Linked DNA regions of Homo sapiens. The protein of the gene in region 3 purifies or fractionates together with the protein of the main gene of each other region. This does not show direct contact. Each region holds a gene or a part of one and is shown on either strand. Other genes may lie near its edges.

What was found.
Region 1: the proteins of ZNF214 (region 3) and NEK7 purify together in Homo sapiens (affinity purification with mass spectrometry; one large-scale study listed by BioGRID and IntAct). This does not show direct contact.
Region 2: the proteins of ZNF214 (region 3) and LRP4 purify together in Homo sapiens (affinity purification with mass spectrometry; 2 studies listed by BioGRID and IntAct, with this or other methods). This does not show direct contact.
Region 4: the proteins of ZNF214 (region 3) and TOPORS purify together in Homo sapiens (affinity purification with mass spectrometry; 2 studies listed by BioGRID and IntAct, with this or other methods). This does not show direct contact.

What each region holds. Positions count from the first base shown.
Region 1 is NC_000001.11:198,314,743-198,322,772, reverse strand, and holds the end of NEK7 (serine/threonine-protein kinase Nek7), read right to left. Parts: intron 3,362-8,030; coding exon 3,251-3,361; 3' UTR 353-3,250; downstream 1-352. UniProt on the Homo sapiens protein: Protein kinase which plays an important role in mitotic cell cycle progression. Required for microtubule nucleation activity of the centrosome, robust mitotic spindle formation and cytokinesis.
Region 2 is NC_000011.10:46,871,993-46,880,022, reverse strand, and holds part of LRP4 (low-density lipoprotein receptor-related protein 4 precursor), read left to right. Parts: intron 1-707; coding exon 708-897; intron 898-984; coding exon 985-1,116; intron 1,117-2,683; coding exon 2,684-2,824; intron 2,825-3,192; coding exon 3,193-3,279; intron 3,280-3,385; coding exon 3,386-3,557; intron 3,558-4,056; coding exon 4,057-4,219; intron 4,220-4,341; coding exon 4,342-4,567; intron 4,568-4,919; coding exon 4,920-5,223; intron 5,224-5,606; exon of another isoform or gene 5,607-6,429; coding exon 6,430-6,648; exon of another isoform or gene 6,649-6,788; coding exon 6,789-6,923; exon of another isoform or gene 6,924-6,949; intron 6,950-8,030. UniProt on the Homo sapiens protein: Mediates SOST-dependent inhibition of bone formation. Functions as a specific facilitator of SOST-mediated inhibition of Wnt signaling.
Region 3 is NC_000011.10:7,011,880-7,019,909, forward strand, and holds part of ZNF214 (zinc finger protein 214), read right to left. Parts: intron 7,872-8,030; exon of another isoform or gene 7,821-7,871; coding exon of another isoform or gene 7,804-7,820; intron 4,146-7,803; exon of another isoform or gene 3,941-4,145; intron 1-3,940. UniProt on the Homo sapiens protein: May be involved in transcriptional regulation.
Region 4 is NC_000009.12:32,541,076-32,549,105, forward strand, and holds part of TOPORS (E3 ubiquitin-protein ligase Topors), read right to left. Parts: intron 3,252-8,030; coding exon 312-3,251; 3' UTR 1-311. UniProt on the Homo sapiens protein: Functions as an E3 ubiquitin-protein ligase and as an E3 SUMO1-protein ligase. Probable tumor suppressor involved in cell growth, cell proliferation and apoptosis that regulates p53/TP53 stability through ubiquitin-dependent degradation.

The DNA.
Region 1 (8,030 bases), on a different chromosome or scaffold from region 3:
CAATTCTTCTTCCAATGTGGCCCAGGGAAGCCAAAAGATTGGACACCCCTGCTCTAAAGATTCAAAGCAGTAAGATTAATATTCCTTTTTTTTTTTTTTTACCTTTTAGAAAACGTTTCTCATTCAAAAACAGAAAATGATGTCCTGAAGATGTCCTTAGTTTAATGCATGTTGATAAAACTACTTTTTAGGATTTGTGTAATCTCTGTTATCACCCTTGTCTATTCCAATTCTTAAGCTTCTCCAAAATGGCAAAGTTATGAAAATGCGTAAGAACTGTTTCTGTACATTAAGTATTAAGTAAAATAAAAAATGGAAGACTTTAGGGGAAAAAATCATAGATACCCAGACATTTTACTGTATTCATTTTTATTTTTATATTTTTGTTTATATTAGGATATTATACAATTTTCAAAGCTAATAACAGAAATCTTTTTGTATGTATATTTAAAGCATAACAAAATAAAAGTATTTCACAAAAGATGTCCATATTACAGTACTATTGAAATATGAGGCACAGGGTAAGTATGCATTTGTGGGTTAAAAACATAATACATTCATTTTAAAGAATAAACATTTAATGTGAGTAACATTTTGGTTAAAATAAATATCATAGTAAATGTTAACAGCAACACCTGAAGTATATGGATACAAGAAAGGTGTTTTGTAATAGATACTATGTTGAATGGTAAAGCATTCATGAAATGGCTGTAATATCTTACTAAATTTACAATCATTGCACATTGTTGAGCACTTTATTTATATAGAGATACCCTTCATCCACCATTCCTAAACCTTACCATACAAAACAAAGTTACTCCATATTTTCACCTGGGTAACTGGTACCAATGTCTAAATAAGGTTTAGAATAGATATAGCTTTCATTTTACTGCTCCTCAAATCAATTCAAAAGTTTAACTTAATCAATATAAAATTTACTTATGAACACATATAAAGAACATTTTATAGGTGACTATATAAATTAGAGCTTCAAATCATCTTCATAGTTCTTTGAAATTATTCCATTCAAAATTAAAATTTGATTTTTACACAGTGGTTTCTTCAGGAAAAATATGAACATTTAGATTTAAAAAGATACAATATTCGAAGCAAAAAGTTTCCACATATAGAAATAATGAATTTCCCTGATCATTAAATTCTTCCCAGCTATTTCCTTCTAGCAGATATATTCACTGAGAAGAAAAGCTTTAATCTTTACTTAAAAGTTACTTTGAGGGGTCAAGCTAATGAATTTTAGATCTATGTATTCTTAAAGATTGCAAGAAAAAAAAGAGAGTATCTGTTCCAACCAGAGAACATTTCATCTCAATTATATTACATTAAAATGAACATGACATTAATGGTCAATAAGAATAATTCTTCTCATACTTCTAGGAATATATCTATGGATGCTCAGTATAAATGTTAAAAGTCATTAAGAGTGTGAGAAAAAAAATGCATCTAGCCCTCAGGAAAAACAAACAAAACAGGTTTCCTTTACCTATTCCAAAATAAAATTACCCTTCAGAAACCATACATAACTGATTAGATTTCAGAAAACAAGGGTTCAGACTTTTTGCCCTTTATACATTTTTTAAGTTTACAAATGCTTGAAAGCATTCAAATGAGTGTAAGAAAAACACATATGAAAAACAAAACCAGCAGTTACATCGGCTAAAGGGAAGTGTTCTTTGAACATGAGGTTTTCACGTTGGCAGGATAATTCATCCAAGGTTGTAAGATGGCACAGAGTCCTTTAACAGTGACTTCCTCTTGGCCTTCAGGCTTCACAATTCTGTGAGAAACTGGTCGCCACTAATACGAAAGCATTCAGGGAAAACACATCTGCACAACAGCATTTACGAAATTCTGCCCATTTCCTTAAGCTACACGAAGTGTTACCATCTCAGTCATCTTCATGAACAAATACAGTACTTTACTCAAAAGCTTCTCAATAGAAATGTTAATCTCATAACAGTTCTGGCTGTAGTCATGGCCAGTTTTCATTTTATTAAGCATATTCTAGAATTACAACCTTGTCAAATAAATTGTAACTGTATCAACATTCACAGGTACAGTATAACACACATCCTTTCTTCCTCTTTAACAAGACCAAACATATGCATACAGAGTGGCCCAAATTTTAAAAAGTTTAAAAAAAGTTTTCAATCCAGGAAAAGTATTGGTATACCAAATATCTTTTAAAAGGGTATTATACTCTCAGAAAGTATGAAACATTAATGGATAAAATGCACATACAATATAAATAAGAAAGTAACTTGAAGAATAATATAAAAAAATTTCTGAAGGGGACCGATCAGAACTTCAATAAAACTTATGAATAAAAACTTAGGCTTATATTATAGTGTACAATTATGAGTTAAAATGCACTTAAATTTATAAAGAAATTGAAATATAGTACTGCAAGGTTATTCAAAGAATATTTTTCAAATGTACAAACAACAATAAAAACACACAAAAAAAGCCTTGGGCAATGTGCAACTTTAAAAATTATTATCACACCAGCTAAACAAATCCTTAACCACTTTTTAAATGGATTCATTTATACCATTTCAATGCAAAGAGAATATCAAAAATATTAAAACAAAACAAAAAACTCTTCAGTGTCTGACTCACATTTTGTCCCCAAATCTTCACATTTAATAGTTACATTTTGAATGTATAAGCTAAGAGTTCTAAATGTTTCTCAAATAGTTTGTGTCTACATTTATCATAAGAATCATATTTGAAAACTACTCTGCTAAGAACTAAAACTAGTACTTCAAACGTTTAAAAATAAAATCTTCACAAAAGTTCACAATTGTGTTCATCTCAATGTCCATAAATTACTAAAAAAGAAACAAGTCACATGTTCAGATACTTTTTCTCAGGTATGAGTCTATTCTGATGTGTGCCAAGCTGCACCTTCAATATTTGGCACTGACAGTCTATCTAAACACAATTTATCAGCAGAAAACTGTAAGAAATTCTATAAACCTTTAGCCATTCAAAACCATCATGTTTCATTTTCTCTCCTAACATGCAATTCAGTTATTCCAAAGTCATTTGGGGGTTGCAAGGAGGTGATTTAGGTGACTGGTACAAAATGAAGCTTATATGAAAACTGGTTAAGGATTCAAAGCACACTAGCTCTGAAATATTAATCTTAACACCAGACATAAATGGGGAGGTATGACTTGCACAAAATACTTTCAATTACTTTGGTTACACTCTTCATGATCTTGCATGTTTAGCTGCTTGCAGTGCATGCATGCATCCTCTTTGCTACGTCATAAACATAGGTGACGTCTGGTCGCTTCTCTGGATCTGGGTTGATGCACATATTAACTAACTGTCGGAGCTGTGAAGAAAGAAAAACAATAAAACCTGATTAAGACAACTATTTTTGGTTAGTTTACTGAGAGGAAGAAATTATGAATAGCTATAGATTTTACAAGGAAAGTACATTTTCTGACTAAACATTCACTGTACTAGAAATATATATAAGACTGCTGCCAATGATCTTACAATAAGTTAAATGTTCTATGAAGTGCATTGAATGGACAGTATTAATGTCAACCAAGAAGTATTTTCCACAATCAGAGGCTTTAAAATGGACTCTCTTAATTTTTCAGAGTTTAATCAGAAGATAGCAGTCACTGAGGACACTAGTCTTATAACTATAAGTCTCCAAGTTAACTGTAAATACACACATACATATTTGATCTAGAATCTACTACAACAGACTTAATTGTAAGTTTAAATGGAAGGCAATTAGAGTTGACATACATTTATAATGAACCATTTTGTACAAATATATATTAAAAGTTTTATGTTAAATTTTGTATTAGAGAAAAAAACACTCCTTTAAACTAATTATAATAAATTATATGGGAAGTTATAAGTGTTATTCCAATCCTCAATTGTGTACACAGTATTTAAATGTCCTCACTTTATAGATGAGAGAGTTGAGGTTTACTATTTTATTCTATTTATATCATAGAATAAAAGCAGATTTCAATAAATTAAGAAACTACCCTCCTATATGGTCCTCGATCCATCGGGTAGAAGAACATAGCATTTTATTGTCAATTCTAATTTCCATCAGTTTATGAAACTATGTGTCATCATAACATTGTATATGATCTTCATAGACAATAAACTAAGAGGAAAAACTATATTCTTTTGCTTTGTAGGTCTCTTTAGGAACAGTTTAGACATTTTGAGAATTTGCATTAACTCTGGCCACGATATAGCACTTAGTAAATTTTTAAATTAGCACAATTTCTTCATAGTTCTCAATTTCTACCATAAAATAACTTTCAACCAGAGAAAATACAAGTGATGATTAAAAAGCTTGGGCTGAAGATGTTGCTAGTGCTATGGAGAAGGCTAATGGCACTGAGAAATGTCATTCTGAAAGAGGAGGTGGGTCAAAGAGTCTGCCAGATGAAGGGTCAGAGTTTGGTAAGGAGTACAGTGAAATGGAAACCAGTCTTGTTGAAGGCACTTTGTAGCTCTGTGCCCTTGGGTAAGTCACTGTCTCTGGAGGTTCATTTCTTCATCTATTAAATAGGGAAGTTGGAGTGGATGACCTATAAGGGCTGTTCTCATCCTAATCTCTTACATTTTACGATTCTAGCAGAATGAAATTTAATGAATCAATTTTAGCTACACTTGGAAATTCAACAATGTTTCATAGTAATGTTACACCCACTGGGAGAGCCTGAAGATTTTAATTTATATTCCTTCCAAAAGAGCAGAGAACAGCATTTAAAACCCTTAAGGGGTACAGCAATACACAAAGCATTTTATTATGGTGATCTAAGAGAAATTTACATCAGAAAGAGACTGGCATTTTACCAGGTTACCAAAAAAAAAAAAAAAAAAAAAAATAAATATATCCAGTAATACACAATGCAGAAGAAAGTGGGAAAAGCACTTACATAATGACACATAATTTAAAAGATAATGTGTTCTAATGGGTCATCTAGCTGTCAGATATTTTCTTTAGAGATAAAAACAAGAAAGCAAGCAGAAAGAATAGCAGGAAAAGATAACCATGGTACAAAAAGTTCATTATATTTAGCTAAAATACAAGTAGATGCATGCAGTAAACAATTTTTTGACTTCCTAACACTGCCACATCCTTCAAGCTGGTTCAGAAACCTTAACTTTTCCTGTGTAATAATTCAGAATAGGGTAGAATTTCCAACCACTAAGAATGAATGACTGGCCCTTAAGTTCTCCTGGCATGAGGAAAAACCAAGATTAGAGATATAATGATGCACGTTTAGTTGAAGCAGACAGTGATTCTCTAGTTCACCAAAGTAAAAAGACAAGAATTGGGAATAACAAAAAGGGAGAAAGACACTGAATAAGGTAAATAGGTAGTGGGAGTGCCAGTGAGCAGATGCTTCTAAACTGCTCCTTTAAGGATGGCCTTTCAAAGGGATGACAGGTCAATTGGTGACCTTGCGACAGGCAGAGCCACAGCACCTTGGAGTTTGCTTTTCCTTCCCCACTTATTGATTCAATCTCCACCAAATACGAAGTGTATCTTGTCATAAAGAGTTTCCTTTTCCAGAAGAATCAAAAGGGCTATCACCATATAAAATCAGATATGTGAAATACAGAATATGCATACTTTACTATATTTATGAATCAATCTGTTGATAACTTTTCCTCAATTATTTGTTACATTAAAAAATTAATAAAGTATAAAAAGAAAGAAAACCTACGAAATTAAAATATGCTTTGGGAATGCTCCCACTTATCCACTCCAGCAACATTTCTAGATGATCTACTCTGCAAGAGACACTATGCTGGTGATACTTGATGGCACCGGATAAGACAAAGGACCTGTCCACAAGGGAAGGCTTGTTGTCCAGCATGAGAAGTGAGAGAATGACTCATTTTCCTTTCTAACCATCTGACTCTTTTGTTCTTTCTTTTTGCCCCCTCTTCCATTTTCATCCGTTCATTCAATTGTTCATTCAATAGTTTCCAATGGAGTATTTATTATGTACCAGACACTTTGTTAGGTAGTAAGGATAAAGCAATAATGAAAAATACACAGCACAGGCCCTTAAACAGCCTACAATCTAGCGGAAGATAGACAGAACAAAGAAACAAATGTGAAAGTGAGGAAATCACAGAAATAATTCTATTATAAACTACAAAGTGATAGGTATCTCAAGAGATATCTGTGAGATAAAGGTAAAAGATTAAGTGTGGCTGCCCAGAGGAGGAAATAATTACTTTCCTCTTTTTCTAAAATCTGTTTAACTATGAGTTGTTGCACCTCGTACACGGAGGTATCGATACCCACACAGCTGACAGTATCCTTCTCCATTCCAAGTACTGCAACCCTCATCTTGGGTCACTTTCACATTTATTTGATGTGAATCAATATAAATCTCTTTGATTACCTGACTGTAATCTTCACCTTCATACCAATTTAGTCTCTGTCTTCCAAGGACACAGCCTGTTTCTTAAAATGCTGTGTCACATCAGAAATGTAAGCACACACAACTGTCCTTCTGTGTCTCTCCCTCCCTTCCTCCAGTATGGTTGTGTTTGATTTGACTGAGACCATTTCCAATCCCTTTCATCCTGGTCAGCTCTATCCTTTTGGATTTACATCATTCAATTCCGGCCTAGACCTTCTCTTCCCTGACGTTTTCTTCCTAGTTTCTTTTGGAGGTTTATCTTCCTTTGAAAAATCTACCAAATGTTGGTATGCCCTAAATATTTTCCTTTCCTTAACTCTTTTCCTGTTTCACTCTTCCTTCTTATCTTCAACAACTGCACTTACTCCCATGCCTTCAATAACCACCAACATGCTGAGGAACACAGGTTATCTGTCTCCAGCCTAGACCTCTTTGCAGGCTCTGTTCCCATACTTCCAACTGCCTTCTGAGTAGAGCTGCACGTAAATATTCACATTAAACATGTTTAAAACTGAAATATTAGTATTTTTTTCTCCCCAACCAGCTCTTCCTAACAGCACCTCCAACTTCTTAAGTCAAAAATTTGAAATTCATATCAAACATCTCATCATACTTCCTTCCCACCTGCCTAACCGTCAGCAACCAGTCCTATTGGTCTCAGGCTCCTTAAACCTTTTGTTTGCTCCTGCCACACCATCTCCACTGCCACACTCTTGGATAGTCTTCCAGCTGACGGCTTTGCTTTCAGTTGTCTTCCTATTTCTCTAGCACTGCCTAACTAGCCAGGTGATGCTTCAACTTTAAGCATTTCAATGGCTCCTCATACCTCTTAGAAAAGCTAAGGCCCACCATAGATGGGGAGGAGGAGCCAAGATGGCCGAATAGGAACAGCTCCAGTCTACAGCTCCCAGCGTAAGCGACGCAGAAGACGGGTGATTTCTGCATTTCCATCTGAGGTACCGGGTTCATCTCACTAGGGAGTGCCAGACAGTGGGCGCAGGTCAGTGGGTGCGCGCACCATGCGCGAGCCGAAGCAGGGCGAGGCATTGCCTCACTCGGGAAGCGCAAGGGGTCAGAGAGTTCCCTTACCTAGTCAAAGAAAGGGGTGACAGACGGCACCTGGAAAATCAGGTCACTCCCACCTGAATACTGCGCTTTTCCGACGGGCTTAAAAAAACGGCGCACCAGGAGACTATATCCCGCATCTGGCTCGGAGGGTCCTACGCCCATGGAGTCTCCCTGATTGCTAGCACAGCAGTCTTGAGATCAAACTGCAAGGTGGCGGCGAGGCTGGGGGAGGGGCGCCCGCCATTGCCCAGGCGTGCTTAGGTAAACAAAGCAGCCGGGAAGCACCAACTGGGTGGAGCTCACCACAGCTCAAGGAGACCTGCCTGCCTCTGTAGGCTCCACCTCTGGGGGCAGGGCACAGACAAACAAAAGGACAGCAGTAACCTCTGAAGACTTAAATGTCCCTGTCTGACAGCTTTGAAGAGAGCAGTGGTTCTCCCAGCAGGCAGCTGGAGATCTGAGAACGGGCAGACTGCCTCCTCAAGTGGGTCTCTGACCCCTGACCCCTGA
Region 2 (8,030 bases), about 40 Mb from region 3:
AGCAATTCTCCTGCCTCAGCCTCCCAAGTAGCTGGGATTATAGGCACCCGCTACCACGCCCAGCTAATTTTTGTATTTTTAGTAGAGACAGGGTTTCGCCATGTTGGCCAGGCTAGTCTCGAACTCCTGACCTCAGGTGATCTGCCCACCTGGACCTCCCAAAGTGGACATTTGCATTTTTAAAGAGTAAAGGCCAGTTATTTTTTATAATGTCTCTCAACTTGGATTTATCTAATGTTTCCTTGTGATTGGATTCAGAGTGTGCATTTGCAGCAGGAATACTACACTAAGTGAAGTCATGTCCTTGAGTTCTCAGTGTGTCTCATCAGTAGACACAGGTGTTGGCCTGTTCCGTTATTGTGATACTTACTGCCATTGTATGGTTAAGGTAGTGTCCACTGTAAAGTTGCTATTTTTTAATTTTGTACTTAATAAGTAATTTGTCCAGAGATACTTTGAGATGATGTGAGTAATAGATGACTTCCAACATCTTCCAATAAAACCATCACACGACCCTTAGAGCCAGGCATGATCAAGTCACAGATTGATAGAGCAAGGCTCAGAGAGATTTTATAAGTAGCTCTTACTGGAGGTCACCCAGTAGGTGTTAGTGGGAGAGCTGCTTTCTGAGTCCACAGTGAGCTCTTTGCCACTGCTCTGTACTGTCAGACTTTGTTGAAGATGACACAGTGTTGGGGCCCTGGCAGGTGCTGATTGGAAGCCAGCTCCCCCACCCATTTGGGCTGACCCTCTATGGAGAGCGCATCTATTGGACTGACTGGCAGACCAAGAGCATACAGAGCGCTGACCGGCTGACAGGGCTGGACCGGGAGACTCTGCAGGAGAACCTGGAAAACCTAATGGACATCCATGTCTTCCACCGCCGCCGGCCCCCAGGTGAGCAGCCCTTGGCTCGCATTGGCTTCTCCGTGGCCCTCCTATGCCCTAGCTCTCCCCATTGAACATCCCCTCCTCTCTACCCAGTGTCTACACCATGTGCTATGGAGAATGGCGGCTGTAGCCACCTGTGTCTTAGGTCCCCAAATCCAAGCGGATTCAGCTGTACCTGCCCCACAGGCATCAACCTGCTGTCTGATGGCAAGACCTGCTCACCAGGTGAGTGAAAGCATCACAGATCTAGATGCAGCCTCTCTGGGAGGGGGCAATGGCTCTCTTCCTTCCTTGCAGATGGGCTCCAATGTGGTCTGAGAAACCATGAGTCCTGCTGCTTCTAGAGGCCCAGGGGAGAGACTCACGGCTTTTAGAAAAGGGGACGGGCCTGGGGAGAGGCCCTGGGGAGCAAGTAGAAAGGACTGGAGGCAGGGTCCAACTAGTTCTTATGATGTCTTCATGCATATTAGATAAAGATGCTCCTTTCTCAAGACACTTTCCTCTCATCTCTTAGTACATTGTCATAATATACTGATTTGGTTGGAATAAGACACTTCTGGCTGGGCACGGTGGCTCATGCCTGTAATCCTAGCACTTTGGGAGGCCAAGGCAGGCAAATCACTAGAGGTCAGGAGTTCAAGACCAACCTGGCCAACATGGTGAAACCTCGTCTCTACTGAAAATACAAAAATTAGCCAGGCATGGTGGCGCGTAATCCCAGCTACTTGGGAGGCTAAGGCAGAAGAATTGCTTGAACCTGGGAGGTGAAGGTTGCAGTGAGCAGAGATCACGCCACTGCACTCCAGCCTGGGTGACAGAGTGAGACTCTGTCTCAAAAAAAAAAAAAAAAAAAAAAAGACACTTCTAACTGCCCAAAATTGGTATAATAAAAACAGAAATGTATGATATCTACAATGTCACAGTACCCTCCTCCTTAGATGTGCCACTTTTGTGAGTGCACAACCTATGTGACAACCTTATTGGAGGGTCCCAGAAGCAGTACCTGGCTACCCAGATGTCGGAAGTCAAGGCTTCTCCCTAGGAGATGCTGCAGGGTAGGCTGCATTTGAACTCTAACCTCCCTGGGAATTTGAGTGAGAAAGGAGCTGTGAACTGTGCCTCTCAGGTTGTGAGTAAAGCCCCCTGGGGTCCCTTTATTCCCTTTCTTTTTTTCTCTTTCTTAATCTTCATGGTAAAGGGTCCTTCAAAGAGAGCCACTTTCATAATATTAATAAAGAGGCATTATTTATGAATATGTGTGAGACCTAATGGTAAGTGCTTTATGTACATGATCTTTTAACCCTTACAGCCACCCCATTATTGTCCCCATTTTATAGATAAGAAAACTGAGGCCTAATAATTTAAGCTGAGAGTAGTGGCTCATGCCTGTAATCCCAGCACTTTAGGAGGCTGAGGTGGGCAGAGGCTTGAGCCCAGGAGTTTCAGACCAGCCTGGGCAATATGACGAAACCCCATCTCTACAAAAAAATACAAAAATTAGCTGGGCATGGTGGTGTGTGCCTGTAGTCCCAGCTACTCAGGGGGCTGAGGTGGGAGGATCGCTTGAGCTCAGGAGGTCAAGGCTGCAGTAAGCCATGATCATGCCAGTGCACTCCAGCCTGGGCGACACAGCAAGACCCTGTCTCAAAAAATAATAATAATTTAAATAACTTGCCTAGAATAACATAGCTAGAAACTAGCAGGGACAGGGCATGAGTTTCAGTTTGCCTGATTCCAAATCCATTTAATGGCTGTGCTCGAGTGATCCTCTTCCCTCCTCTCCACCTGGCAGGCATGAACAGTTTCCTCATCTTCGCCAGGAGGATAGACATTCGCATGGTCTCCCTGGACATCCCTTATTTTGCTGATGTGGTGGTACCAATCAACATTACCATGAAGAACACCATTGCCATTGGAGTAGACCCCCAGGAAGGTCTGTATGGCCCTCTCTTCCCACCTGGCCTTCTGTCCCTGCCCTTCAACAATTACTGTCTTTCCTCTCCCACCACCTTTGTCTCCTGCCAAGAGCCAGGGTGTTTGTTCCCCATTCCCTCTGGCATAGCCCCTGTCCCTGTCTCTCTAGCACTCTCTCTTTGGTTGTGAGAGCATGGTTTGGGGCCCTCTTCTCTCCGTCTCTGCCAAGAGCTATCCTGCTATGATATTTCTGCGTTTTCCTTGATTTCCTCTGCTAGAGGCTCCAGAGCTCTCTGACATGCTCTGGTGTTTCAAGACATGAATCAGCTGTGTGTGTCCCATTGTAGGCGGTGAGGGTCTAGGTTGAGCCAAGCTTTCCCTCTCCAGGAAAGGTGTACTGGTCTGACAGCACACTGCACAGGATCAGTCGTGCCAATCTGGATGGCTCACAGCATGAGGACATCATCACCACAGGTGGGCCTTCCTCCTAGCCCAGGGACCACCTGTCTGGCAACAGGGCTGGGGAAATAGCCCATCTGTTTTAAAATAGGAGCCAGTGTGCTCTTTTGACTTCCCACAGGGCTACAGACCACAGATGGGCTCGCGGTTGATGCCATTGGCCGGAAAGTATACTGGACAGACACGGGAACAAACCGGATTGAAGTGGGCAACCTGGACGGGTCCATGCGGAAAGTGTTGGTGTGGCAGAACCTTGACAGTCCCCGGGCCATCGTACTGTACCATGAGATGGGGTGAGAGCTGGCTGTATCGCACTGGGTAGTGTGGGGGGCCAGCTCAGCTGGGGTTATGACGGGGTAAAGGTGGGTAGTGGAGAGGAAGCTTGCATCACAGAAACAAGGTGACCTCCCTGGGGCTCTTCCACTCTCTTGTGACTTCTCGCAGGGTGACAGTACAGTGTAGAAGTTAAAAGCATGAGCCTTGAATCAGAATACCAGGATTGAAATGTTTTCATCATGTATTAGCTATATCACTTGGGTCCGGTATTTAACCTCTCTAATTCTCAGCTTCCTTACCTATTAAATGGAGGTGGTAGTGAAAATACATACCTTGTGGCCCTTATGAAGGTTGAGATAATGCACATGAAGTATTTTGCAAAGTACTTTGTCAAGCAAAAATTTTGCCTGACATACTGTAAGTACTCAAGTGTATCTGACATACTGTTAAGTATTCATGGTATGTGGTAGCTGCTGGAATAACTAGCTAATATAGCTAATATTCTTCCTCACTCAGGTTTATGTACTGGACAGACTGGGGGGAGAATGCCAAGTTAGAGCGGTCCGGAATGGATGGCTCAGACCGCGCGGTGCTCATCAACAACAACCTAGGATGGCCCAATGGACTGACTGTGGACAAGGCCAGCTCCCAACTGCTATGGGCCGATGCCCACACCGAGGTGAGAGCCGTGTCCCTGCTGCTTCCCAGGAGCCTGGGAAGATGGGAAAGGCCTGCCTAGGATCTCCATGGAGAGTTCCCAATCTGCTGATCACCACCCCCCACCCTCTCCTTCCTCTGCAGCGAATTGAGGCTGCTGACCTGAATGGTGCCAATCGGCATACATTGGTGTCACCGGTGCAGCACCCATATGGCCTCACCCTGCTCGACTCCTATATCTACTGGACTGACTGGCAGACTCGGAGCATCCACCGTGCTGACAAGGGTACTGGCAGCAATGTCATCCTCGTGAGGTCCAACCTGCCAGGCCTCATGGACATGCAGGCTGTGGACCGGGCACAGCCACTAGGTGAGAGTCAGAGGGCTGGGGCTGTGAGTCAGAGCCTCTGGCTTTCTGGGGCCATCTCAACATCAGAGATATATCCAGAGCACAGAGCTCCTTTACAGCCAGAAAGACGGTGACCTGTTTAAGCTCCCTTCCAGATTGGGCTGTGTTCTCTCTGGGTATGGCTGGTACTACAGCTGTCACCTTCAAAGGACTCCTGGAGATCCTCCTGCAGACCCTCCTTCTACCTCACCCTGCCAGGCACTGAATCCTGTCACTTAGAACAGCAAAGAGCCAGCCACAAACAACTGGGACCTTTGTAAGATTCAGATGATGTTCCAGGCTAGGTGTGAATACTTGTGCTTCTCATCACCAGGTTTTAACAAGTGCGGCTCGAGAAATGGCGGCTGCTCCCACCTCTGCTTGCCTCGGCCTTCTGGCTTCTCCTGTGCCTGCCCCACTGGCATCCAGCTGAAGGGAGATGGGAAGACCTGTGATCCCTCTCCTGAGACCTACCTGCTCTTCTCCAGCCGTGGCTCCATCCGGCGTATCTCACTGGACACCAGTGACCACACCGATGTGCATGTCCCTGTTCCTGAGCTCAACAATGTCATCTCCCTGGACTATGACAGCGTGGATGGAAAGGTCTATTACACAGATGTGTTCCTGGATGTTATCAGGTATGAGCAACACTGAAACCTCCAGAAGACACAGATTTGCTTCTGGTCGCCCATGGGTGAGGTTGTGTTCTGACCACTAAATGGATGAGTGATTTGGCACTTTGGATAGTGAGTTTTAATCCTGACTTGTTCACTTTGTAGTGTTGTCACTTACAGCAGAGTTTCAAACTTTCATTTGTTTAGAGATTATATGGAAGCCTAGTATGTAAAACAAACAACAACAACAAAAAAAACAGGTAAAGTCAGGGGACCTGGAGACTTTCACATCTACCATTGTGCCCTGAGGGAGCTCCAAGAATCCCCTAGGACTTACTGATGAGTAGGCCATATAACCAGTATCTGTATTGCAGTAAAGGAGCCCCAATCAAATGCCAAGTCTTATGGTGGTTTACAAAGCTGTTGTTTTTTATTTTTTCGTTGTTTTATTTTTAGTCTTTAAATTTGTGGCCCTAACACAGCTTAGGAATATGATGTCCTGCCACCAGTAAGAGTGGTTTACCATGGCAGATATTCTCACATGGAGGAACAGGGAACATTCCCCTTTGCTCTCCCCAAGGGATGTATTAGAATCTCAAACTGGGGACAGGTAGGCATATACAGTTTAGGGAAGTCCCCTAGGTGACAGTGACATGCTCCCCATTCTGAGGTAGAGTTCCCTCCTGCCCATAGGGCCTTTGCAAAAGTGCACAATTAGGGTCTGGCGTGGTAGCTCGCGCCTATAATCCCAGCACTTTGGGAGGCCAAGGCGGGAAGATTGCTTGAGCCCAGGAGTTCAAGACCAGCCTAGGCAACATAATGAAACCTCATATCTACTTGTATTTAAAATTGTTTTTAACTTTTAAAAAATGCACAGGTTGGTTTTGACAAATCTGCGTTTCTTATCATCACCACCTAGCAATCCTTGTCTCTTCCCAAAGGTATGTGGGGAATGATAAACTTGTCTTCTAGCAAGACATCCCCTGGCAACCGCCACTATGTCCAGTTAGCAGGAAATACTGTGTCCTCCTAAGAACTGGTTCCTTCATTCTGCAATTATTTTATTGAACATCTATCATGCTGGGTGCTGAGGAATGTACTCATAGATACCTGGTCTCTATCCCTGTGGAGCTTACAGTTCAGTGGGGTCCAGTTATGGGAACATGGGTTAAAGTTCTACTCTATTCTGGGTCAGTCTGGTTGCTCATCCAACACTGGGCTCTCCCCAAGGCGAGCAGACCTGAACGGCAGCAACATGGAGACAGTGATCGGGCGAGGGCTGAAGACCACTGACGGGCTGGCAGTGGACTGGGTGGCCAGGAACCTGTACTGGACAGACACAGGTCGAAATACCATTGAGGCGTCCAGGCTGGATGGTTCCTGCCGCAAAGTACTGATCAACAATAGCCTGGATGAGCCCCGGGCCATTGCTGTTTTCCCCAGGAAGGGGTAAGTTTATGGCCAGCAGAAGAGAGATCCAGGGAAGAAGGGCTGGGTGGAAAGATGGTGTTAGTGGGTCCTCTGTGTTCTCTCAACCTCTGGGTGCTGTCTTCCCATGCCTTGATGATGATGGCACTGTTGTGTCTCAGGTACCTCTTCTGGACAGACTGGGGCCACATTGCCAAGATCGAACGGGCAAACTTGGATGGTTCTGAGCGGAAGGTCCTCATCAACACAGACCTGGGTTGGCCCAATGGCCTTACCCTGGACTATGATACCCGCAGGTGGGAGTCTTGCATCAAACAGCCTCCTGGAAATCGGGTGGGCAGAAGAGAGAATGGTTGAGATTAACCTTGGAAAAATGAAAAGATAGAAAGCTTCTTGGTATGTGGGGAAGAGGAATCATTGAGAAGGATAAGGGAATATATTCTTAGAGCAGCGATTGCTAAATCCAGCCCTCAACCCTTATGTGGGTTTTGTTTGGCTGGTTTACATGTTCCTAATTTGAGTGCCTTTGGCAGAGCATGTCTTCTGGCTGGACCACAGGTCTCACACCCCTACTCATTTAAGGGCTGATTCTTATATTTGTTATAATATAACAAATCCTGATCCCTTCAGGCTCTGGAACTTTGTTGTTGTTGAGACAGCATCTTGCTCTGTTGCCCAGGCTGGAGTGCAGTGGCGCAGTCACAGCTCTCTGCAGCCTGAACCTCCCTGGCTCAAGCCATCTTCTTACCTCAGCCTCTCAAGTAGCAGGGACTATAGGCACATGCCACCATGCCCAGCTAATTTCTAAATTTTTTGTAGAGACAGCATCTCGCTATGTTGCCCAGGCTGGTCTCGAACTCCTGGACTCAAGCAATCCTACTGCCTTGGCTTCCCAAAGTGCTGGGATTTCAGGCATGAGCCACCACGCCCGACCCAGGCTCCGGAATGTACAACTCCTTGTCTAGATAAGAAATGCTAAGGGCAGGGGGAAGGGGCTCTAAAGCAGTCTGTGCCCCCTTCTGATCCAAAAGAAGGGGAAGGGAATCCAAGACTTCTGGAAAGGTGGTAGAATGCCTTCTTCTTTTAACCTCAGCAAGGTCCATGTAGACTGGGCTCACTTCCTTTTTTGTTGTTGTTGTTGAGACAGAGTCTAACTCTTTTGCCCAGGCTGGAGTGCAGTCGCACGATCTCGGCTCACTGCAACCTCCGCCTCCTGGGTTTAAGCCATTCTCGTGCCGCAGCCTCCCAAGTAGCTAGGATTACAGGCACGTGTCACCACGCCTGGCTAATTTTTGTATTTTAGCAGAGACGGGGTTTCACCATGTTGGCCAGGCTGATCTCGAACTCCTGACCTCAAGTGATCCCCCGCCTCGGCCTCCCAAAGTGCTGGGATTACAAGCGTG
Region 3 (8,030 bases):
CCTATCTTAACCAAGAATACAAATAATTATTTGAAGAAAACTTTCACATTCCAATAAAGAAGAAAGATTATCTAAATAAAAGGAGAAGCATGCTTCCACGCTCTTGGATGCAGTAACTTAAATTCAATACATTCCAGTCAAATATTCAGATGGCTATTCTGAGGAACGCAATAGACTTCTGTTCCTTAAAATTGACAAGGAAGGAAATAAGTTGGTAAAGACAAGTAAACCAAACAGGAAGACTACCAGATACTGACATATCACCAAAACTACAGTAGTAAAATCAGAAGAGACAAATAGACCAGTAGAACAGAGCAGAGGGCTCAGAGACTAACCAATGTGCTTCTTTATCTACAAAAACATATTAACAATAGAGGTGGCATTAAAAATCAAAGACAGAGGTAAGGATTATTTACCAGATAGCATTATGAAAACTGATTAACTATATGAGATAAAATAAAACTGGATTCCAACTTAATACCATATACAATGGTTAAGTATATAGATCAAGTAAGTACTTAAATGTTAAGGGGAAAACTATAAAATTAATGAAAAAAGATGGAATTAATGAAAAAAAAGATGGAATTTGAAAACATTTACCACTGTTAAATGAATCCAAGAGCCAGTCCTTTGAGAGGAAAAATATTAATAACAAAGTAGATAAATCACAAGCTAGTTAATCAAAGGGGGGAAAAGGAGCACAAATAGAAAAAAATAAAAATAAGATTAGGGAAATAGCAACTACAACCTTTAAAAATAACTGGAACAAAAGTTTTCTCAAATTCTTTCAAATTTTCAAAGAACAGATTATTTGATGCTATGAAATTATCCCAAGGCATCAAAAACTGTTCAAGGCATCAGAAACGAAAAACTCTTCAAGACGTCAGAAATAAAGTGAAACATAAGGCCAGTAAAATCCAGCAGCACTTGAATTCATAATCTACTACCATATCACTAATTACTTCAACATTTAGTAGCTTAAAACAACAATAATTATTTACTATTTCTTATTTTTTTTTCTGGGTCACAAATTCAGGAGTGGCTTAGCTAGGCAGCTCTGGTTTGGATCTCACAAGATAAGTTGTTGGTTACATCTGCAGTCATCAAAAGGCTTGACTGAGAAGAAGGATTCAATTCCAGGGTGGCTAACTCCCATGGCTGGCAGGCTGGTCTAAATGTTGATGAGAGATCTGTTTTTTCTCCACGTGGTCCTTTCAAGTGGCGGGGGCTATCTGTCAGCATGGTGCAAGTTGCCCAAAAGAAAGTCAAGCAAAAGCTGCATTGTTTTTATGACTTAGCCTTGGAGGTCACATCCTATCACTTCTACTGTACTCCACTGATGAGGCAATCACAAGCCATGGCTGTATTTGAGAGGGGTGGGACACAGACCCCACCTTTCAGTGGAAACAATGTCAGTCACATCATAAGAAGAGCATGAAAACAGCATAAATTGTAAGTGTTGGGAAAAAGCTGAGTGTTGTGAAGGAAACTGAGGCAGGGTTTGCATAATGTCCTTTGGAATGTGTCTAGACTTGCTGGCTCCTTGCTTCTAGCCCTCCTAGGCTCCTATTCCCACTATCTAAAGTAGCAGAACATGTTCCATATAAATGCTAAACTATCGCAGCTGTAAATCATGTGCTTAATGCAACGTGTCCTTTTGACCTCCACATTCTCACCACCTGTTTCTCTGTTGGATTACCAATAAATAGCGTGGGCTCCCAGAGCTTGGGGCCTTCGCAGCCTCCGTACAATAGCGATGGCCCCCTGGTGTTCCCACCTCCTTTTCTCTCTCACTGTCTTTTTCTCAATCCTTTGACTCCGCCGGACTTTGTCACCCCCACGACCTGGTGTTGGGTCTGATCACCCCAACAATAAGTAAGGCCATCTTTGGAAAATTCAATCTGTTATAATACCAAAGCATATTATATCATGGTAAAGTGGTAGTTTATTCCAGAAAGAAAAGGAAGGTTCAAATTAGGAAAGCTATTAACTTTAAGCTTTTATAATAACATCAAATAAGAAAAGCCATATGATTATTGTAATGGATGCCAAAAAGTATACTTATTAAAATTCAACATGCATCCTTCATTTAAAACTACAGACAAAGCATGCAAAACAAAACAAAGCAGAAGACATACAAACATATCTTAAACCCAAAGATAAAGCATTAAAGTCATTCTCATTAAAACTGGAAACTTGACAAGGATACTGCAAGTCCACAACTTTTAAACTACTGTGAAACTACAGCATAATGCAATTAGACAAAATTATCTGTAGAGGATATGACTGCATATCTGAGAGATCCAAGAAAATCAGCTGAAAACTACTGGCAATGATAAGGGAATTCATGATCCCAGAAATTCTGTTACTAGAATTATAAACTAGACATTACACATGTATACCAAAAGATCTGTACAAGAACAGTTAGAGCATAATAAATGCTGTAACAGCAAAAAACTAAAGCAATCCAAAAAGTCCAACAACAAAACAGATAAGTTGTTCATACTATGAAATAGTACACAGCTGTGAAAATGAACAGCTACATGAATCAACATCGATGCACTGTAAAATTTAGCATTATGCAAAAGAAGCCATTCATGGAAGAATATATAGTGATTCAATTTTACAATGTTCAAAAATATGCAAAACTAAACAATTGTGTTTAGAAATGTACCTGTAGTTAAAAGCGCAGGAAAAAACAATTAAGGAATAACAACATTTAAGATAGTGGCTGCCCCTTTAGGAGAGGGGTGGGAAAGAAATTCTGGAGTCATCAGAGGGCTTTTACAAGTATATGCTGATTTAGGCTGGGCATGGTGGCTCACACCTATAATCCCAGCACTTTGGGAGGCTGAGGCAGGCAGGTCACTTGAGGCCAGGAGTTCGAGACCAGCCTGGCCAACATGGCGAAACCCTGTCTCTAACAAAAAAAAAAAAAAACAAAAAAAAAACACTACCCAGGAGGTGGAGGTTGCAGTGTGCTGAGATCACGCTACTGGACTCCAGGCTGGGAGAGAAAGCAGTCTGTCTTAAAAAGAAAAAACAGTGTATGCCGAGTTCAATGGTGAGTGTCCGTGTTATTATATTTTAAATTGTACGTATGTTTTCATATATTCTTTTGCTTATAGGAAATACATCATAATAAAGTTCAAATTACATAAAATCTAAGAGTATACAAAAAGAGTTCAGACATATAAATAATAATTAGAATTTTTTTTTTTTTTTTTTTTGAGACAGAGTCTCGCTCTGTTGCCCACGCTGGAGTGCGGTGGCATGATCTCGGCTCACTGCAAGCTCTGCCTAAATGAAATTTATAATAGCAATAAGAATATAAATTCCTAAAAATAAATTTACCAAAAATACCAGAACCTATATAAAGATAGTTTTAGAATTTTGAGTGCTAAAAATAGGGTTGGGGTCGGGTGCGGTGGCTCATGCCTGTAATCCCATCACTTTGGGAGGCCAAGGTGGGCGGATCACTTCAGGTCAGGAGTTCGAGACTAGCCTGGCCAACATGGTGAAACCTTGTCTCTATTAAAGATACAAAAATTAGCCAGATGTGGGGCTCACCCGTGTAATCCCAGCTACTTGGGAGGCTGAGGCATGAGAATCACTTTAACCTGGGAGACAGAGGTTGCAGTGAGCCAAGAGTGTGCCACTGAACTCCAGCCTGGGCAACAGAGCAAGATGACTCTGTCTCAAAACAACAACAAAAACAACAACAACAACAAATAGGCTTGAAAAAACAAGATGACTCTGCTCAGTCTTAGGAGAAATAAATATAATTTTGTTCTAACTAAACTTATCTCTATTTTCAAGCAGATTTAATCAAGATATTAATCTTGATTTTGATGTGGGGTTGGAGGAGCTGTAACAAACTGATTTTCAAATGCTTTTGAAAGAAAACCATTTTGAAAGTGGAATAATGAGGAGAGGCTAATTCAATGGCATATTAAAACTTTAATAAGGACTCTGCAATTCATAACATGGCTTGACATACAAGTAGAGAAGATCAATGGAAACGGGTACAAATCCAGAAATGGACACAAGTACAACAGTGCATTTTACACATGACAAAGGTTACATCAAATTTGTGGGGGAAAGACGGCTTATTCAATCAATGATGTTGGGACAAATGATGACATCTGGCAAAAAAAAAAAATTAAGCTTGATACTCTGTCTCAATTCTTACGTCTTAGTGACTAAAAAGAATTATATCAGATATGCATTATAGTTCAAATAATAGCTAACAATGCAATCAATTGTTAGTTCTTCATGTCCAGCACTGTTCTAAGTTATTTTTACATGTATGATCTTGTTTAACATTCTTAACAGCCCTACACAGCAGCTGTTATTTCTCCACTATAAAGATGAAAGCCTAGCTAAGTGATTCAATCTAGTTCACAGTATTAAGAAGTGACAGACATGCAATAAGCTTAGGTAGTGGATGTAGAGCCTGTACTATGACCAATGTGCTATATTGATTAAACATAATGAAAGGTTAGTATATACTTATTATCTAAAACTTATTATATATATGTTCCTTTTACATCTTTTTGACCAAAATGGAAATCATCAGAATATTATTCTGTGGAAAAAGCCATCCTCTCTCATTTTTATCTTCACTGAGTGAAAAAGAAATGCTACATTCTTCTTCATTGCGTATTAAATGCACTACATATAAAGGGACAACAATAAAAACATTCTGATACCAGTGTAAGAATTGAGAAGAGGCTCCACAAAACAAGACAGCCTCAAAAGTAATCTTTGTATACATATGTGTATGTGTAATTTGTATATGAAAAGGTAGCACCACAGTCAGTAGAGAAGATAAATGTTAGTAGAAAAATTAAATAACCTAAGTAGGAAGTAAAAAGAATGTTTAAATTCTGTCATTTCTCACATCAAAATAAATTCTTGATAGATTTAAAAATTAAATGTTTAAAATAACACAATTAAGAAACAGGAAAATGAAAGCAATTACATATTAAATTTGGAAGTGAAGAAGAGATTTCAAAGCACAGAACTATATAAGTAAAAGAAATGAGATTTCATTTTATGCAAATTTAAAACTTATATAAACAAGTCCTTAAAGTAAAAGGCAAATGATAAACTAGGAGAAATATTTACAGCATATGACAAATGATTTATATGTTTTCCACACAAGAATATCTAATATCAAGTGGAAACAAAAAATTCAGTAGGAAAACAGTGATGTATATCAAAAGGCAATTCATCAAAGAAGGAATATAAAGAGTCAACGAATATATGTGAAAAAGTCAACCCTACTAAGGATTAAAAAGGATGCAAATCAAGGCAAAATTTAAAACTTAATACTCAGTGCTGGCAAAGGCTCAGTAAGATAGAATCATTCATCAAATGGTTGTAGGAGTTCAAGTTCACATAACATTTCTAAAAGAGAACTTCAGTTTTTCAAAAGCCTAAAACATGCTTATATCCTTTGATTCTGTTTTCCTATTTCTCAGAGTATATCTTGAGAAAATAAAAAGACATATACTTAACAAATTATGTATAAGAATATTTATTATAAGATATTTATAACAACAACATATTGGGAAATACTTAAATTTTCCCCAGTAAAAAGCAAACTTAATGGGAGTCCAAGGTGGGCAGATTGCCTGAGCTCAGGAGTTCAAGACCAGCCTGGGCAACACGGTGAAACCCCATCTCTACTAAAAATACAAAAAAATTAGCTGGGCATGGTGGCGTGCACCTGTAGTCCCAGCTATTCGGGAGGCTGAGGCACGAGAATTGCTTGAACCAGGGAGGCTGAGGTTGCAGTGAGCCGAGATTATGCCACTGCACTCCAGTCTGGGCGACAGAGCGAGACTCCGTCTCAAAAAAAAAAAAAGCAAACTTAAATAAAGCATACTATATACCTAGAATGGAACACTATACAGTCATTAAAACTCATGCTACCAAAACATGCTTGGAAAAATGCTCATTATATGTTAAGTGAAAAACGTATACAAATAACAGCTATTCATACATTGAATAAATATTTACTGAGTGCTTAGTATACGCACAGTACACTTCTATATACTGGGAACATTTCCTTCCCTCATGGAGACTATTTGTCATGAGTCAAATTTTTTAATTTAATGTTTTATATATACTAATCTTTTTATATACGTGTGTGCATATACCTAAGTTTATATTTGTACATGTGTATGAACATGTATACATACATATCAGTATTTGTACAGACTAGTGAGTACATATATACAATAAGTATTAAATAAAAGACTACAAGTAAATACACCCAAAGGTCAACAATGGCTGTCAATATGGTTCATGTGAAGAGATGCACAAGAATAAATAACAAATTTAAACATTAATTGCCTTCCACAATGTGGCTTTATACATTCATGTTTCACTTCCCTGTCACTAGCCTGGTTTCCTTATTTGTTCCCTCAAATTGTACCTGAGAGTAAATGATGGCTTTCCTATTTAGAATATCTTCCTACTCATAATTGTTCAAATCTGAGTTTCTGTTGCTGTGTTTTAAGTGCCACTCATTCTGGCACTGTTTAATGTCGATAACTTCAGAAATTATTATTAATCTCATATAGTTTATTACCCCCAATGTTAAGACTTTTTTTTTTTTTTTTTTTTTTTTGAGAGGGAGTCTTCCTCTGTTGCCCAGGTTGGAGTGCAGTGGTGCCATCCTGGCTCACTGCAACTTCAGCCTCCCGGGTTCAAGCAATTCTCCTGCTTCAGCCTCCTGAGTAGCTGGGATTACAGGTGCCTGCCACAATGCCTGGCTAATTTTTGTATTTATAGTAAAGACGAGGTTTCACCATGTGGGCCAGGCTGGTCTCAAACTCCTGACCTCAAGTGATCCGCCCACCTTGGCCTCTCAAAGTGCTGGGATTACAGGCGTGAGCCACCGCGCCTGGCGATGACATTCTTATAATTCTTTATCTCAGAACACCAAGAACAGCATGAATTATACACTAGACTTGAGTGACTGAATGAATGAATGAGTAAATGTTGGGAAAAGACACTGGGTTGGGGCAGGGTCAAGTCTGCACGCTCGAAAATTTCACAGGCAAGCGAGGAACGTTTTCTGTCCAGTCATCCATCCATCCTCATTGCCACCTCCACCACCCATGGAGAATGCAGGGACATTTTGTAAATGAGAAAAGACAATCATCCTCACTTGGGATCAGACTATGAGGGAAACAGTGTACATTCCTTCCTCCTTTGTGTTCCTCTTCTGGGGAAGGGTAGAGTGCTGAGACGGCTGAGCTGAGGAGGAAGGCAGACTGAAAACCTGGGTATGGCTTTAAATTCCCAAATTCATTAAATTTCCCATATACTAACTGGGTATGACGCACACATCTCCTAGCAAGAGGTCCAAAAGAAGCCTATGAATGCTCTTGTTTCCTTTCAACGACCAGAAAGGAGAGCTATGAACACTGGCACCTTGAAATTTATTTCCAACCCTCTAGAAACTTCAAAAGATACAACTCACTTATTTATTGAGATTATTATTACTACTAACAATAATAGGAAAGCACCAGCACACTTAAATAGTATCTATTCTCAAGGTATTTTTCTTATTTTGTTCAGTTTAAGTAGAAAATCATTCCATTGTCCTCCCCTACTTGCTAAACAGGAATACTGGATTTACTATCAGAAAAGTACCTGGAGTCTTAGAGAAGTATCCCAGAACTGGAGCTCCCAGGTCCTGATCAAAGTCTCAACTGTGCCATCAAGCACTTGTAGAACTTTAAAGAGGACCAAACTTATAGATCTCCAAGATCTCAGTTTCCTTACCTGTAAAATGGGGGCATGAGCCTTTGCCACCCCAGTCCTTCCTTGCTGATCAAAGGTAGGTTCCTGGGCAAAGTAATAAGCAATTAGTTAACCCTCTTTCTCTAGGGAAAAAACGTTTCATGCGTGCCCCAAGAGCAGGACAGGTTTGGGCTCCCCCAACGCGTCACGGGCTGCCCAAGTGTAAGCACCAGAGAACCAGACACACGAACGGTTCTCTAGGAGCGGGA
Region 4 (8,030 bases), on a different chromosome or scaffold from region 3:
ACCGTATGGCTTTATGAAATAACTTCTAAAATTTATATAATTTTTCTTATTTAAAAAGGACCCCAAGTTTTAAATAAGCTGCTAGCAGTATCATTTTCTTCACTTAAAAGTGCATATCTTTGAGGGTGGGACATACATTTTGAACAAATAATGATTTTTACAAATTAACACCAAAAAAAAAATCATTTAAAATATTGTAAGGAGGAAGAGAGTTTTCACCAAATGTCATCTTTAAATAGACTGCAGTAGACGACATTCTTCCTTTTTCCTTTTTATAACATCATAATTCTCAATGAAATGCTTTGGCAGTTTTAAGACATATCACAGTCTCTACCAAGACATACTGACATTAATGATGTCCGTGGCGATGGCAATTGCCTTGATGGCTCAGTTTGAAGAGACACAATGTTACTGGGCTGGTTCTCCAAATCAGAAACAAAGGTGCTCTCTTCTCTTACATCGAGAGTTTGTTCAACTGAAGCTGCCAGAGGTGGAATATTATCTACAGTTTTGTTGGCATTATTCAAGTTGTTACTAAGTGTGGCAATATCACATTCCTTGTCCAGCACACCAAATTCAGCTTCTATTGTAACTACATCTTTAGTTTCAAATGGTTCCAAGGAAGGAGCCAAAAACTCATTTTGTAGAGGGTCTTGAGGACCACTATTGTCACATTCTGTATCCTCCTTTACTTCAGAATCCTTATCACTGTCACTGTCAATGGTAATTACAACTGGGGAACGTGAAGCATTATCTCCATGGTGTTTCTTATGCTTCTTCTTATGTTTCTTCTTTTTCTTTTTATGGTGTTTAGTTGTATCAGTAGCTTTTCCTTCATAAACTATCTCTACACTTAGGCTCCGGGTCTTCCTTTTTCTCCTTTTGTGTTTTGTCTCTCTGTCTGATGATCGGCTGTCTGAAAAGGTATCACTCTCATTTTTGTAGTTTCCATCCAATTTTGATGAAGATTTTTGGTAATGACTGTCCTTTGCTTTAGAAGCAAATTCACGAGATGGCTGAGCCACTTCGTTAGTACCCTCCAAATGCCGTGTTTTGTATTTTCGTTTCCCTCCAGGCTTTTCATTTCTCACCCGGTCAGTCCCGGTAGATGCAGTCCTTGATCTGTTACTAGACAGGCTCCTTGATCTGTGCCTTTCATAGTAGTAATACTTCCTCTCACTGTGATTATTTTTTTTCCTAGCATTTGTTCTTTCAGAAAAGGACTGAACTCTAAATTCTGGACTTGAAGACTGTCTAGAATAATGAGCTCTGGACAGAGTCCTCCTCCTGTAAGATGATTCGTACCCATCCCTGTCCTTGTTTCTACTGTAATAAGTATACTCCCATTTGTATCTGCTTCCATAATTATTTCTTAAATAATAACGATCTCTATTTCTGCTCCGTGATCTTCTTTTACCATGATCACTGCTACGAGACCTTGATCTGCTTGTGCTTTCACTACTTAGAGACAGAGTTTGGCTTCTTCTGGACCAACTGCTATCTCTAGTTCTTGATCTCTTTTTGTCTCTTCTCCCTCTAGGTCTGCTACTTTCCCTGCTTCTGGATCGTTTACTTTTCATTCTTTTCTTCCCATGATGCTTTCTATGATTCTTCTGATCATGCCCACTTCTACTCTGAGAACGTGAATCTGAACTTCTTGATCTTCCCCTCTTTCTGTGTCTATGGTTATATGGAGAATATACTCTGTCTCCTCTTACAGATGAGTTCAGGTTTCTGGGAGATGACAATGATGTAGATCGTTTCTCTTCCTTCTTTGATTTGATTCTTGTACTAGAATCACAATGACCTTTATTTATTTGTTCATCCTTTCCAAGGACAGAGTGTGGAGATGAGCATCTACTAACATCGCTATCACCAGAACTGTAAGATTGCTCCTGTTCTTGTGTCTTCACTGTCTCCATTTTCTCATAAGAACCTAAGTCCTCAGAATCAGAGGACAGTTCAACAAGTTCTGGGGTCCTCTCAGCTAGTGGTTTAACAAACCCAACAATGACACAATTATCTGAAGAATCATCACTGTCATTATTTAGGTCGTCATTGGTTTGTACTCCTTGTATCTGAGACGTGGCTCCTCCTGTGACAAGTTCTTCATCTGAACTGTCAGAAGTATTTAAAAGAGAAGACATAGTAACGTGTACCTGCTCTGAGCTTGAGTAAGATGGTCCTGGAGTTTCATCATCCCATGGTGCCTGACTAACAGTGGCTACATTAATATCCAGCTCTTGGGTCTCAGCCTCATCTGGAGATATTGTTATGACTGAAGAATCAGAATGGCTGCCTTCTTCGTATGAAGGAGCAGGGCAATCATAATTGGCATGCTGGTCAAAGGCTGCCATGTTAAAAGGAGATCGGGCAAAACTGATAAATTCATGTATAAAATGCTCAGTTCGATTAAGTAAAAATGGTCTTAAATCAGACACAAATGCCTGACTCTCCAAGTCATAGCGAGTAACATTACTCATGATAATATGCTGGACAATATTCACTAAAGATCCATGAGCTCCAAAAAGAACTGTAAGTTCACGTTTTAACCAGGGGACTAATCTGTGAAGGCAAGCTGGATTTCTACGGAAAAATTCAGCTGAAATATCCCTGTAGCGGCCACCATCTTCAATATTTCTAACTCGAGCACCAGCACGATAAAGAGTTCGTCTAAAATTAATAATATCTTGTTCTTGAATTTTCCGCAAAGATCTTTCATCTGCCGTAGTTGGCCTCCTTACTGCAATCTGTCTCATAAACTGAGGAATTTCAACATCTCTAGGTCTTGTTGAAATGCCTAACCCTTCAAACAGTACTCCACTATCCGGTGGAGTTGTTGTTCTTCTGTTCACAGGACCACTAGGTGAATACACAGAAGCATTTCGTTCCCTTGTCAGAGTTGTACGGTAGCGAAATCGTCGATCAGGGGTGACAAAAGAACCATTATACGAAGGCCTTAGGACATACTCCTTGAAGTCATCTTCTGCCCTCACAGAATGGAAAATAGAATCAAAGGGCTGTTTACATAGTGGGCATTCAGCTTTGTTTTTTGACCACTCCTGTACACAGCGAAAACAGAACTTATGTAAGCAGCGATCTAAGTAAGACACATTATCAAATCTATCCAAGCATATAGGACACTTAGAATCAGGAGATGCATCAGCTGGTACTGTCTGTTGCAATTTGCTAGTGCCAGCTTTAGGTGAAAAGTTGTCCATTTTAAATTCCTTAGCAGCTGATGCCATTATCTGTAAAAGGGAAAGAAATATATCAGTAACCTGATAATAGAGGAATGACTAAATAGTCTCAACAAAAATGCAAATAAAGACCTTGAAACTTATTTTGGTGAAAATACTTAAGTGACCCATTACTTTTGTTTTATTTTATAAAGGGGCACTGTAGCATAGTAATATAGTGCTTAAAGCATAAGCTCTGAAGTCAGATTTCCTAAGACTGAATCCTGGTTCCACACTACCAGCGTGACTATGTGCCAGTTAGTATCTCTGTGCTTTAATTTCATCTGCAGGTCAGTGATAACAGAATCTGCCTTACAGGGTTTGTGAAGATGTAAAAAGCCCTTAGAAAAGGCACCTGCTACATAGTAAAGCTCTCAAATATTATGTAACATTCTATTATTCTTTTTAAAAATAATTTGAGAAATATCTGACATATAAAAAAAAAAAGTACCAAATACCCATGTATCCACCACTTATGTTATGCCCCTTATCTTCCCCTCCTATCACTCTCTAGAAAACAAAAAACAAAAACACCACACTCCTCAGTTGATGTTATTTCTATGCATGGCTTTATACCTTTCATATACATATGCCACTAACAATACAGACTACTGATTTATCTGTGATATTTTGTATGTACTTTTCTAAAACAACTTTGGTGACATAACTTACATACCAGAAAGTTCACCTGTTTAAACCAATCCTATGATTTTTAGTGAAAGATTCTTTTTTCAACCTTAGAAAGCTAATTTTAAAAAGGGAGAGGAAACTTTTAGTGAAGATTAAATAATAAATGAAAAAGCAGCCAAGAGGCAGTGCCTGGCTCACAGTAGGTGCTGAGTAAATGTCAGCTGTTATTATTACTACACTATTATATTCAGTTAATCACTCATTCCATTCAGCATTCCTAATAAGCCTTCCTTTAGCTTTTTTCTTTAATCCAAAAGTCAGGCCACAGAATATCTTGAAATCATGTTTTTGGTCCCCTTCCCTATTATCCTTTCCCATAAGGATGACTAGAATATTAAAGATTAGTTTGTTTTATCAGTTTACATTGGCTCAAAACTTTGCTAGAGCTTGAAATCTAGTATGCGTTTTGACTTTATCTCATAAACTCCAAAGCTGCATTTTATACTAATCATTTTGAGTATATTGACTATTGGGGAGTCAGGCGCGGTGGCTCATGCCTGTAATCCAGCACTTTGGGAGGCCAAGGCAGGCAGATCACCTGAGGTCAGGAGTTCAAGACCAGCCTGGCCAACGTTGTGAAACCTTGTCTCTACTAAGAATACAAAAATTAGCCGGGCATGGTGGCAGGCACCTGTAATCCCAGCTACTTGGGAGGCTGAGACAGGAGAATCGCTTGAACCCAGGAGGCAGAGGTTGCAGTGAGCTGAGACTGCACCATTGCAGTGGGTGACAAGAGTGAAACTCTGTCTCAAAACAAATAAACAAACAACAACAAAAAACTACTAGGCCCTTGGTTTCCCAGGGCCTAATATTCATCTTCCTCCACCTCCTTTATCACAGGAGGTTCCATCACTAGTCAACTGGGGTCAAGTTAATCAAATAACAGAATTGTAATTTTCTAAATAGACTCATTGGCCTTAACAAACTATAAGAAAAACCAATAAACAAAACCCACAACAAAAACTCATGACTGAAATACAAGTATTCCACCATAGCTTTCATATTAAACCTGCTCACTTTAGGGCATCTTGGCTTTCTCAGAACCATAACTTAATAGAGAATCAATTAATGCTAAATAAGCGTTTCTTCAGGGGTCCAGGTATGTCTAGTCTTCTATTTACTGGACTGAAAATGCAAAAACATCATCACTGTCCTGGAAGGTCTGGAAAAGCAGGATTATAAATACATAATACTGCTTTTTTGTTCATAAACAGTCTAAAACCCTAATACTGCACAACCTTCTCAGCATTTCCCTCTACTTTTAACATTTTTTAATCTGCCTACTCAAGAAATTTAAAGAAACACACACATAAAAATAAAAACCTTTCAGTTCAGAGACTGTGTGTGTGGTAGAGGGAAGGAACAGAGAAAAGTTGGGAGGGAATCAAAGAGGTTATCAAAAGATCTGGACTGAAGACCAGGCTTCACCTAGAACTAGCTCTAGTTAATGTGAAGAAAACCACATTACTCTAGACTTTAGTTTTCTCCTCTATATAATGAAGGGATTACTGGACTTGGAAAAAAGACCCGTGAATTCCAAGTTAATACATTTTATCTTCACTTAGTTCTCTGAAATAGAATTTTAGTGTTTTCTGAACACTTCCAGTTCACATAAAAATTACAGCTGAAAATGAATTTATTAAAGGGAATTATTAGGTAGTAAACTTGAAGTTCAAATAAAATAAAATCTCAACAAAGTATGATTTTTTTAAAAAAATGAAACCTTACCCTTCCCTTCTCTAGTTTTATAAGCCTGTTAACCACTTTGACAGTAAAAGGTGAATGAATGACTGGTAATGTCCTCCATAACAGGTTAAAAAATAATAATAAATTAGAATTCATTCTTGTATTTCTACACAGGAATCATTAGCTGAAAAGAATAATCTTAGCCGGGCATGATGGGCACACCTGTAGTCCCAGCTACTCAGGAGGCTGAGGCAGGAGGATTAACTGAGCCTGGGAGGTCCAGGCTGCAGTGAGCCATAATTGCACCACCTCACTCCAGCCTGGGTGACAGAATGAGACCCTGTTTCAAAACAAACAAACAAACAAACAAACAGTCTTCATCAGAAACATCAAAGAGGCGGGGCACGGTGGCTCACGCCTGTAATCCCATCACTTTGGGAAGCCAAGGCAGGAGACCCTTGAGGCCAGGAATTTGAAACAGCCTAGGCAACAAAGCGAGATCCAGTCTCTATTTTAAAAAAGAAAAAGAAACATCAAACAATTGGAATGCATGTAGATCAAATAAGTTATTAGCTCTTCAAAATCATCACTAAATACTAAATTAAAATGTTTTTTAAAACGCAAATGAAGTCGAACATATGACCCGGCAATTACACACCTAGATATACCCAAGGGAAACGAAAACTTGTCCACACAAAAAAACTGTATATGAATATTCACAGCAACTTTAGTCATAATACCTCAAAAGGAGAAACTCAAATACCCATCAATTGATTAACAGACTAATAAAATGTGGTCTATCCACACTATGGAATTTTATTTGGCAATAAAAAGGAACAAAGTACTGGTACCATGTTGTAACATGGATGAAACTTTTTATTATGCTAAATGAATGAAAAAAAAAATTCACAAGAACCCACATATTGTATGATACCTTTTATATGAAATGTCCAGAATAGGCAAATCTAGAGAGATGAAATGAGGCTGGTGGCTGCTGCTGGGGCAGTAAAGAGGTTTATTTCTGGGGTGATGAAAACGTTCTACAATTAATTATTGTGATGGTTGTACAACTCTGTAAATATACTAAAAAATCATTGACCTACAAACTTTAAACGGGTGAACTTTATGGATGGAATGTAATCTTTTATTTTATTTTTTTGAGACAGAGTCTTGCTGTGTCGCCCAGGCTGGAATGCAGTGGCGCGATCGTGGCTCACTGCAAGCTCCGCCTCCCGGGTTCACACCATTCTCCTGCCTCAGCCTTCCCAGTAGTAGCTGGGATTACAGGCGCCCGCCACCACGCTCGGCATTTTTTTTTTTTTTTTTTTTTTTTGTATTTTTAGTAGAGACGGGGTTTCACCGTGTTAGCCAGGATGGTCTCGATCTCCTGACCTTGAGATCCGCCCGTCTCGGCCTCCCAAAGTGCTGGGATTACAGGCGTAAGCCACCGCGCCCAGCCCGGAATGTAATCTTAACAAAGCTGTTTAAAAATACAAATTAAGGCATAAAAACTGGGATGACTAGATACAGATTAAGAGTGGTTGATTTGCTGGCCGGGCGCGGTGGCTCACGCCTGTAATCTCAACACTTTGGGAGGCTGAGGCGGGCAGATCACCTGAGGTCGGGAGTTCGAGACCAGCCTGACCAACATGGAGAAACCCGGTCTCTACTAAAAACACAAAAATTCGCCGGGCGTGGTGGCGCATGCCTGGAATCCCAGCTACTCGGGAGGCTGAAGCAGGAGAATCACTTGAACCCCCGGGAGGCGGAGGTTGCAGTGAGCCGAGATTACGCCACTGCACTCCAACCTGGGCAACAAGAGCGAAACTCTGCCTCACACACAAACACACACACACACACAAAAGAGTGGCTGATCTGCAAGAGACGTTCTGAATTTAAGTAGCAAAGGTAGACCCGATGAAAAACACAGTGCTTCAGGTTCTGTAAGAAGCCTGTGTTACGGGTTTTCCATCCTAGCACTCTAGGAATTAGGACATTTCCTCACAGGAGACAATCAGTTCTTCCAGTCACACTTCCTAAACTGTCTCCCAAATCCTAAATGAAGTTCACCATCTTTAGTATAAACTGATTAAGCCAAAACTTCCCTTTCCCGAAAAATCCTCAAATCTGGCTTTAACAAGGATAATAACAATTCGGGGAAATTTCAGCTAATTAATATGGACACACGTCTAGGGAAAATGGATGGGGGAGATAAAGAATCAGGAAGCTCGAATCTACATTTCAGGAGACTGGATATTTGAAAAACTGCACAATGATATAAACGAAGTATAACTGCTCTGTAGAATTAAAGTTAGACTTACTACAAAAGTCATCTATGGCCGGGCGTGGTGGCTCATGCCTGTAATCCCAGCACTTTGGGAGGCCGAGGTGAGCGGATCACAAGGTCAGGAGATC